Regions from separate parts of the Homo sapiens genome. Here region 1 is linked to region 2. Evidence: fine-mapped QTL for protein levels in blood plasma. A gene starts in region 2. The other region holds a variant in brackets. All regions are shown on one strand. Distances are between the middles of the regions. Region 1 overlaps ECPAS (Ecm29 proteasome adaptor and scaffold). Region 2 holds the start of PTGR1 (prostaglandin reductase 1).

Evidence for each region. A credible set is the group of variants that fine-mapping cannot tell apart. PIP is the chance, under the fine-mapping model, that this variant and not a neighbour inherited with it causes the effect. Sun 2018 read protein levels with aptamers (SomaScan).
Region 1: its variant is the best candidate, but not a certain one, in a credible set for the plasma level of the PTGR1 protein (Sun 2018, PIP 0.76).

The regions. Positions count from the first base shown.
Region 1 is chr9:111,458,135-111,463,513 of GRCh38, forward strand. The region is part of intron 2 of ECPAS (Ecm29 proteasome adaptor and scaffold); the gene reads right to left. Among named protein-coding and RNA genes, the nearest start is that of ECPAS, 24 kb to the right of the region's middle. The variant T/C (reference allele first, on the strand shown) is at 3,015.
Region 2 is chr9:111,596,583-111,601,929 of GRCh38, forward strand. It overlaps PTGR1 (prostaglandin reductase 1), which reads right to left and starts at 3,065. Exons shown (of 10, transcript NM_001146108.2): 1 at 3,021-3,065; 2 at 735-850. The coding sequence starts at 840. RefSeq lists an enhancer at 2,916-3,488.

The DNA of each region.
Region 1 (5,379 bases), 140 kb before region 2:
CCAACTAATGATTCTCTCCGAGAGTCTAAGATATAAAGGAGCCAACGGACCTATATTTTCATGTCAGATACATTACTGGTTTTAGTTAGTAAACTAAACCTCTCTAAGGTTATTAATGAACTTGTCTATTAGGAACAGCATAAGATTGCTTCATAAGAATGTTGTGAAACATTATATAATGTTATATACGGCTATCATATTACAGATGTAGCTTTTATATTCTTGTGTAATAAAGAATTTAGGTGACCTCTGTCCATGTTCCTGAGAGGAAAGCACTAAACCCTTGGGATTTCCCCAGTAACTGAAGTGCCTTTGTTATTCATGGTGGGACCCTCTAATCACATTTGATAACTTACACTGAGGAAGTAACTCATAGTGGGCCCCAGATTGTTTACGCTAAGAGATAACTCAGGATGGGGGTTGATCACACTAGAAAGACTAATCATCTTGCAGGTTTTCAGCCAGGTGATTAGGGGAGGTGGACAAGGGGAAGGGTTGGAGAGGGAGAGGAGGGTGGGGGGGGTGTTAGAAATTGAGTCACATGGGCAATGATCCAATCAATCAATCACACCTGGTCAATAAAACCCTGGACACCAAAGTTCAGGTGAGCCGGTGAGCTTCTATGATCAGCAGTGCATTGTGTGTATTATCACACATTGCTATACTGGGAAAGTACCCTGACACAACACAAGCTTTGCATCTGGAACCCTCTCAGGCCTTGCCCTACATGTCTCTCCCTTTGGCTGGTTTTAACTTGCATCCTTTTCTATAAAACCATAACCATAAATACACGGCTTTCCTGAGTTCTGACTCGTTCTAGCTAATGATTAAACCTGAGGGGGTCCATGGAGACCCCCAAATCTGTATCCAATAGGTCAAAAGTGAGGGTGGCTCTGGGATAACAGGAACTTGTAGGTGGCATATGAAGTCGATTCAGTCTAGTGGAGGGCTATGCCCTTAACTGGTTAGGTTTGGCAGAGTAATTATATATGATATAAAATATTTTCCATATGTTATATAAATATTGTATATAATTATCTCTCAGAATACATTATTCCTTTAATTTTACCTTTTTCTTTTTTTTTCCCCTTAAGCTCAGTGGCAAGAAGAAATTATTATCTTTTTCTTTTTTGTATTTTTTGTAGAAATGAGGTCTATGTTGCCCAGGCTGCTTGTGAACTCCTGGCCTCAAGCGATCCTCCTGCCTCAAACTCCCAAAGTGCTGGAATTACAGGTATGAGCCATCATATTTGGCTAATTTTACCTCCTTTTTAAATAAAGCTGACTACTACTACAAAAATAAGTATTTTAATAAATCAGAAGTCTACGAAATATTTGAGAACACACATTCCATCAGCTGGGAGCAAAATATGAATTATTAGTAGAATCCCACCTAGAGTAGGAATCCTATGCTAGGTATGTTAATAACCCCATTTACTACCACCAAAGGAAAACTGAGCCAGGCCAGAAAGCTAAAAATCCCATGTGACAATACCTCAGAGACACAAGAGCTCATCATACGGAGGCATAACTTAGTACAAAGTCATAATTACATGATTTTAAGGGGCTTTTTTAATTACTTCTAAAGACAGACCACAATGATACAACTCACAATTATAAATTCTGCTTTAAAAAACTGGTTCATTCTAAATTACCACAAATATGAACTGTATTATTTAAAAACCTCCCCACACAAAAAAATGGCAGGACCTTATGAATTCGCTGGTAAATTCTCCTTCATAACTTCTTCCAGAGAAGAGAAAAAGGTGGGGTAAAGGGATGGCAGGGGAACACATCCCTGAATGTTAAGAGGCCAGAATAACCTTGATACCAAACAAGGGTATCCCCAGAAAGATAAAAGCAAATAAAAGATATTTCTCATGAATATAGACGCAAATGAGATAATAAAATAATATTTAAATCATAATACATAAAATAAGTAAAAAATATGAGTCAAATCCAGCGATACATAAAAAGGATAATACATCATACAAAAATTGGATTTATTCCAAAGATGCAAAGTTGGTTTAATATTGAAAATCAGTGTAATCTGCCACATTAACACAATAGAGAATAACAATCATATGATCATCTCAATATATACAGAAAAGGCATTTGATCAAATTCAACATCTCTTCATGCTAAATAGATGGGAACAAACTATTCATGTTGAAGAGACAAGGAAGAAAAGAGAACTTCCTTAATCTGATAAGAGATTTTTATAAAAACTTACAGCAAACATTATATCTAAAGGTAAAATACCAAACACTTTTCCTCTGAGTTCAGGAACAAGGTAAAGATGTTCACTATTACCAATTCTATTCAAATTTGTACTGCAAATTTTATTCAGAGCAATAAGACAAAGAAAAATAAAATGCATTAAGATTACAAAGGAAGAAATAATATTTTCATTATTTAAAGATAATGATTGGTACACAAAAAATCCAAAACAATCTATGGAAAAATTAATAGAATAACAAAATACACAAATCAATTGGTTTCCTATATAATAGTAATAAACCATTAGAAAACAAAATTTGAAAACACCTATTACAATGACATCAAAACACATCGAATAGCTGGGAATTAATCTAGGGAAAAATGTGTAAGACCTCTACACAGAAAACTAAAATACACCGCTACAAGAAATTAAGGAAAACTTAAAAGATACACCATATTCACAGATTAGAAAATATTAATAAGATGTCAATTCTCCCCAAATTGACCTATAGACAATATAATCCAAGCACAATCCATCAGATAACTTGGGTAACACTAAAAAGCTGATCCTAGAGCCAGGCACAGTGGCTCGAGCCTATAGTGGTTCCAGGCCAGCCTGGGCAACACAGGAAGATACTAACTATCTCAATCAATGAATGAGTGGATGAATAATCTTTAAATGTGTGGATACCACTAGAAGAAAAAAAAAAGTTGATTCTTTCTATAATTTAAAGAAATGCAAAGGACCAAGATTTGCCAAAACTATCTTGAAGAGGAAAAACAGCTAGAAGACT[T/C]TGGTCAAATTTCAAGGCTAACTACAGTAGGCTGGGCACAGTGGCTCAGCCCTGTAATCCCAGCACTGTGGGAGGGCAAGGCAGGCTGATTGCTTGAGCTCAGGAGTTTGAGACCAGCCTGGGCAACATGGTGAAACCCCATCTCTACCAAAAAAAAAAAAAAAAATTTAGCTGGGCGTGGTGGCGTGCACCTGTAGTCCCTGCTACTTGAGAGGCTTAGGTGGGAGAACTGCTTGAGCCCAGGAGGTAGAGGTTGCAGTGAGCCAAGATCATGCCACTGCACTCCAGCCTGAGCAAAAGAGCAAGACCTTGTCTCAAAAAAATAAACACATAAAATAAAAACTACAGTAATTAAAAGTATACTATGCTAACAAAAAATAAGTAGACCACTTGAACAAAATAGAAAATGTGTAAAAGACAAACAGGTATATAGTCACCTGGTTTAAACAGAGGTGTCACTGCAATGTAGTGAGTAAATGATGGTCTTTTCAATAAATGGTGTTAAATCAACTGTATTCCAATATGGGAGAACAATATTTAATCCCTACCTCACACCATATCTATTAGTCCGTTTTCATGATGCTGATAAAGACATATCCAAGACTAGAGAATTCACAAAGGAAAGAGGTTTAATGGAGAACTACAGTTCCATGTGGATAGGGAAGCCTTTCAATCATGGCAGAAGGCAAGGAGGAGCAAGTCACATCTTAACATGGATGGCAGCAGGCAAAGGGACAGCTTGTACAGGCAAACTCCCGTTTCTGAAACCATCAGATCTCCTAAGACCCACTCGCTATCACGAGAACAGCATGGGAAAGACTCACTCCCATGATTCAATCATCTCCCACTGCATCCCTCCCACAGCACATGGGAATTATGGGAGCTACAAGATGAGATTTGGACGGGGACACAGAGCCAAACCATATCATCAAACAAAAAGAAAATCAATTCCAGATGGATCATAAATCTAAATGTCAAAGGTAAAACAATAAAGTTTCTAGAGAAATAAAGAATATTCTCATTACCTCGAGATAGGAAAAGATATCTTAAAACAAGAAGCTAGATGGTAAGGGAGTCTGAAAAATATGATTAGCAGAATCTGTCCCAAAGAGTAGTTTATAACTGTGGAGCTGGAAATAACCGTCACTGAAAGAAACTTTCATAATCTGACAAAAAGCATCTATGTAAAATCTACAGCAAATATATCTCATACAAAATCAGAAACAAGATGTGCACTATCATCACTTCCAAGCAAATTGAACTGGAACTGCTAGAAAATGCAATATGGAAGTAGGAGATACTAAAAACTGTCAGTATTCACAGATTACATGATATTTATGGGATAGGGTATGTAAAATAAGAAAGTTAATTATGTTGCATACAAGATCAGAGTACAGAAGTCAACTGAGATAAATGAGAACAAAGTATCAATGTAGTTTTTAAAAACATATAATTAACAATGGCAATAAAACTACAAGTTATCTGGAAATAAATCTAATGAAACATGTCATAGTCCTTTACAGAGAAAATTATAATCCTAACTATAATTCATAAGATCTAAATTAATGGAGAAGCACAACATTCATGGAATTTTTTTTTTTTTTTTTTTTTTGAGACAGAGTTTCACTCTGTCACCAAGGCTGGAGTGCAGTGGTGCAATCTCGGCTCACTGCAACTTCTGCCTCCCAGGTTCAAGCGATTCTCCTGCCTCAGCCTCCCAAATAGCTGGGATTACAGGCATGCGCCACCACACCTGGCTAATTTTGTATTTTTTGTAGAGATGCAGTTTCGCCATGTTGGTCAGGCTGGTCTCAAACTCCTGACCTCACTCAGGTGATCCACCCACCTCAACCTCCCAAAGTGCTGATACTACAAGTGTGAGCCACCACACCCAACTACATTCATGGATTTCCATGTCAGGATAGGTTAGTGATAATAACCCCCAAATTTCCATGGCTTAAAAACAACCAACATTAGTTTCTCACTTAGACCATGCCTCAGTCATAGATCAGGAGGAGGGCTCTGCTCACTACAGTCGGCTGATAGAGCCAACACCATCTCAAACACCGCTAGTTAGTGCCATATCCTCAATCCTTCTGGCTCAATTCAACCCTTCTGTGGTGAAACTTCTGTGGTGAATCACATGTCTCTCACTGTGTCCCCAGCACTAAATTCTATTTTGTGCCCAAAAGAGAGAACTAGAAATATCTGGTAAACAGCACTAATGCTCACAAATAAACTCAATATTGCAAAGATGGGAAGCCCCCAACAGTCAAACATTCTCTACAGAAAACAGAGTGCTTTGTGAAAGCTGAAAAAAATTATAAAATTCCTTTGGAATATGAATGGAACAGAGTATGAAACA
Region 2 (5,347 bases):
TCTACTAAAAATACAAAAAAAAAAAAAAATTAGCCGGGCGTGTTGGTGGGCGCCTGTAATCCCAGCTACTCAGGTGGCTGAGGCAGGGAGAATTGCTTGAACCTGGGAGGCAAAGGTTGCAGTGAGCCGAGATTGCTCCACTGCAATCCAGCCTGGGTGACAGAGCAAGACTCCATCTCAGAAAAAATACAAAAATTAGGGGGGCATGGTGGCGCACACCTGTAATCCCAGCTACTCAGGAGGCTGAGGCAAGAGAATCGCTTGGACCCAGAAGGCAGAGGTTGCAGTGAGCCAAAATCATGCCACTGCACTCCAACCTGGGCAACAGAGCAAGACTCTGTCTCAAAAAAAAAAAAAAAAAAAAAAGAGAAAGTGCTTGCACATTGGAGCTTGCCAACTACTGCTGCTCTAGATCTATGGGGCCACTATAAGAATAGAGCTCAAGCTAGCCTGCTAGAAAGGCCACATAGATGAGAACTAAGGCATGCACCCCAACAGAAAGCCTGCTAATCAGCAGACATGTGAGCAAGGCCCATCCTAAATTAACCATTTACCCCAGATGAGACCTAAGAAGAACCACCCAGCTTAACTCAGCCCAAATTGCCAACCCAAAGAATTGTGAACTAATAAACCGTTGTTGCTTAAAGTCACTAAACTTTGGGGTAGTTTGTTATGCAGCAAAAGCTAACTGATACAGTCCCTTCCAACTCTGAAATATTTTTAGTATGACTTACCTCCATTTTTTAAGGGTGGGAGCTCAGCTGTCTTCAACTCAAAGTCACTATTAGTAGGATAGCCAACAAAGTGCTTCTTCAGGGTCCATGTCTTAGTACGAACCATCCTGAAGCTCCTAGAACACAGTAAATATGTAGTCAACTGCCATGAAGTGACTGCATTCTAACAGTTCTCTAGCCGTCAAACTGAGACCAGACAGCACAATTACAATATCCTCAAATCCCATCATTATCATATCATGCCAACCACATTCATTTAACATTTACTATGTTTCTGGTGCTGTGCTAAGCACTTCATATAGATTACCTCATTTTATCCTTATAACTTCCCTATAAGATAGACATTAGTATCATTGCCAGTGTACGGATGAGGAAACTGAGGTTTAAAGAAATCTTCAAGACAAGGAAAAAATATAAAACAACAAAGAAATTCTTCCCAGCCACTGCTAGGCTAGAGTTTCTCTACGGCACTGAACAGTTACCGGAAGTGCGAATATTCCATTCCGTTTCTCATCTCACATGGAGTGAATTCTAAGAAAAAGCATCAAACACAAAGAACCCAATAGATAGAAGTCCATGCACCTCTTTCAGATGGAAACAGCCACGCATTTCAAGGCAGTCTCAGAACTCCTGAAAACCACCGGAGGGCGCCGCTGCTCCGCCCCATTTTCAGGTGCGTTTTTTTTTTTTTTAAATACTTTTTTTTCTCTCTTTTCTTGTAGAGAGGAGCCTCACTGTGTTGCCTAGGCGATCCGCCCGCCTCGGTCTCCCAAAGTGCTGGGATTACAGGTGTGAACCACTTGCACTCAGCCATCGGGTGCGAATTTTCTTTGGCCCAGTAGGGATTTGAGTTTAAACTCCACACCAAACCGATTTTGAGCTGAAACGCTGCACCAAAGCAAGGGAAGATGATGAAGGCTGCCCCGAGCTGGGGGTTCAGGATGTTCTGCTTGGACTGAACTCTGCCGAATCACTTGGGACCTGCGCCTTCCCGCGGGTGCATCCGCTACAAACAATCCAGTTACGAAACCATTTGGAGCTGCCAGTGATCTCCCCAGCTCCCCTACCGGTGCCGCGGGAGGGGACACGGTGACCTGGAGGGAGCACTCCCGCATTGCGAGGGAGCCAGGGGGGCGGTCTGATCTGCAGCCCGGGGTTGTTCCTTCTTTTCTTTTTTTAAAATTAAGACTTTTTTTGTGACGGAGTCTCGCTCTGTCGCCCAGGCTGAAGTGCAATGGCGCGATCTCAGCTCACTGCAACCTCCGTCTCCCGGGTTCAAGCGGTTCTCCTGTCTCAGCCTCCTGAGTAGCTGGGATTACAGGCGCCCGCCACCACGCCCAGCTAATTTTTGTACTTTTAGTAGAGACGGGGTTTCCCCATGTTGGCCAGACTGGTCTAGAACTCCTGAGCTCAAATGATTCGCCCGCCTCGACCTTCCATAGTGCTGGGATTACAGGCGTGAGCCACCGCGCCAGGCCCTACGTATCATTTTTACGGTGAGACATTTGCAGTTTACTCTGTTATTTCGAAATACACATTATTGGCTCTAGTCACTCTGCTGTGCAACAGATCTCAGAACCTACTCCTCTCGTCTCTGAACTTCGTACCCTTTGGCCAACAAGCCCCCATTCCCCCCCGAACCCGCTCCCAGCCTCTGGCAACCATCATTCTAGTCGTTATTTCTATGAGTTCAACTTCTTTAGAGTTCACACATCTTTGTCCCTTTCCCCAAAAAAGCAACCGCTGGGCTTCCAAACTCGCTACAAGTCCAGAAGCCCTCCTGGAAAGGGTCTGGCCGCAGAGGGGCCAGGTCCCGGGAAAGTCTCGCCCGCCCGAGGAGGGGGCCTGGCGCGGCGCCCGGCCTTTGCCCGCTCGCCCTTTGCTCCCACCCTCGCCTCCCGCCGCCCGCCGCCCGCTTGCCCATTCCCGAATCCCCACCCCGATCTTTCTTCTTCTACCCTCCCCCAGTTGTGCAGTCCAGCAAGTTCCCTGGCCAGCCCCCTCCCGGGTGCAGGAAGCTACCGGGTGTCCCGGGTTGTAACCAAGCTTTCCTATTCCCTCCGGCGCGCGGCTCCAAGCTCTCCAAGGAACTGCGGGGGCGGGAGGCGTCGGGACGTCGGCTCCCAAGATCCTCCGAGTGCAAGACCCAGCGGTCATTTCGACGTAAGGGGAGGAGGTCTAAGAGCAAACCTCCTCCACTGGGGCGTCTAGAAACTTGGCAGGAAGAAAGCAAGGGGGTTAGAGGAGGGAGAAAAGGGAAGGAAAGAAAGCAGGAGGTCTACTTACAGGAGCCCGAAGGTTCCACTGCCTGGGGAAGGCGGCTGGGACTGCGCAGCCGGGCGCCCGGGGTCCGACTTATGACAGGTCCCAAGAGAGGGTGGGGCCACCCCAGGGCGGGGCTGCTTCTTTAGGGTGAGAGCCCGGCCCCGAAAGGGTCACAGGAGGAAAACCAGGGTCCGGGAAATCTGAGTGCGTTTGTGTGTGTGTGTGCGCGTATCTCTGTGTGCCTATGTGCATGTGCGCGCGCGTATGTGTGCATGTGTGCGTGTGTGTGCGTGCGCGCCCGCGCGCCCGTGTGTGTGCGTGTAGGGGGTTAGGGACTCCTGATAGGAAAATTCCTAACAGAGCTTTGTCCAGCTGACACTGGACCTCCGCCTGGGGTCCTAAGTTGGAGCCCGGCGGAAATATGCCCCGTGGGGGAACCAACCGTGGCATCTGCCAAGCAGGCCGGAAGGGTCCAAAGGCAGGGCCTGGGGCGGCCGCAGCCCTAATAAGCCCCCGGTGCTGGCTCCGATCCCTGGGCTCCCCGTCAGCCCTGCCGCTTGCCCGCAGTGCAAGCTTTCGCCCAGGGCTGCGGTGCAGACACCCTGCCTGTCTGTCCCCAGTCCGCCTGCTGAACACCTACTCGCCTTCCACCAGCCAATTCAAGGTCACCTCTGTGAACCCTTGCCAGACTCCCCCAGGCAGGAGTGAGCACTCTTGCCACTGAGGCACCCCACCCATCACACCCTAGCAAACATCAGGCCTTGACCTGGCTTCTGCAAGGAGAGGTGGTCTCAGGCAGGGGTTGAACGTGAAGCTAAGTCGTTGGTATTAGACGACTGCAGGTTCGAAGCCTGCACCTGCCACTTACTAGTGGTGTAGCTTTCAAAGACTTACTTACCTTCTCCTTGCCTCACTCAGTTCAGCCATCTGCAAGATGGGGATAAGAAGAATGCCTAACTTCCAGTCATTGTGAAGATTCAATGTCTTTAATTTATTTATTTAATTTTAATTATTTTGAGGTCTTGCTCTGTCACCCAGGCTGGAGTGCAATGGTGGGCATCATAGCTCATTGCAGCCTTGAACTCCTGGACTCAGGTGATCCTCCTTCAGCCTCCCTAGAAGCTGGGATTACAGGCCCACCACCACACCTGGCTCAATGTCTCTCCTTGTAAGGATACCCGCCATATTGGATTAGAGCCCCACTTGTCAGCCTCCGTTTAACTTAAACACGTCTTTGAAGGCCTTGTCTTCAAATACTGTCAAATGGATTAGGGCTCACTAATATGGCCTCATGTAACCTTAATTACCTCTTTAAAGGCCCTATCTACAAATACAGTTACATTCTGAGTACTGGGACTTGGGGATTTTAACACATGAAATTGGGGAAGACACAGTTCAGCCCATAACAGAGTGTGTGGACCAAGCGTGGTGGACGCATGCCACAGGATATACACAGCATCAGAAGCACTGGGTTCCATGTACATAAAGCAACTTGGATGGACCCTAAAAACACAATGCCGAGAGTTGAATTCTTCACACTAATCAGAGTTGGTGGCACTTTATCCCCACTGGTCTGCCAAATTCTTTCTTTCTCACTCTCTCCCTTCTCATTAATTTATGTAACTTAATATAAAACAAAACTCCATTCCCAGGCTGGGTGCTGTGGCTCATGCCTGTAATCCTAGCACTTTTGGAGTCTGAGACAAAAGGACCACTTGAGGCCAAGCATTCAAGACTTGCGTGGGCAACATAGCTTTAACCTGGGAGGTGGAGGCTGCAGCGAGCTGCGATCGTGGCACTGCACTCTAGACTGGGTGTCTAAGTGAGATCCCGTCTCAAAAGAAAACCAAAAAAACTCAATTTCCTGCTTTTCTCCTCCTACTATAGGTAACTACTGTGATGTATTTGATTTGCATACAGTTTTTTTTTCCATGTTCTTACATAATGTGCACTGTGGTCATATACATTTAATTTATAGAAACGGTATTGGGTTACATATCGCATTCTGCTTCTCTCTTTTTTTTTTCTTTTAAGATAACTTGTTACAGAATCACTGTTTCTTTTGGATATTAGAAGTGTTAATAAAATTGCAGGCATAAAAAGTCTTTGCAAAGTAAGAATAAGAGAAAAAAGTGCCAGAAACACAGAGTGGCTCACATATTTACTCACTTGTCCTTAAATTGAAGATACAGATAAGATTGGGCCGCACCAGGTCAAACAAAATCTGTTTCCCAAACTTGATGACTCAGTCAGTCTCAAAGGCTGCAGCTTGTCAAGTCATGGTGATTAAGTTAAATCACGGCTGTTACATACTCGCACACAGAGAGTTAGAATATGGAATAAAGGAT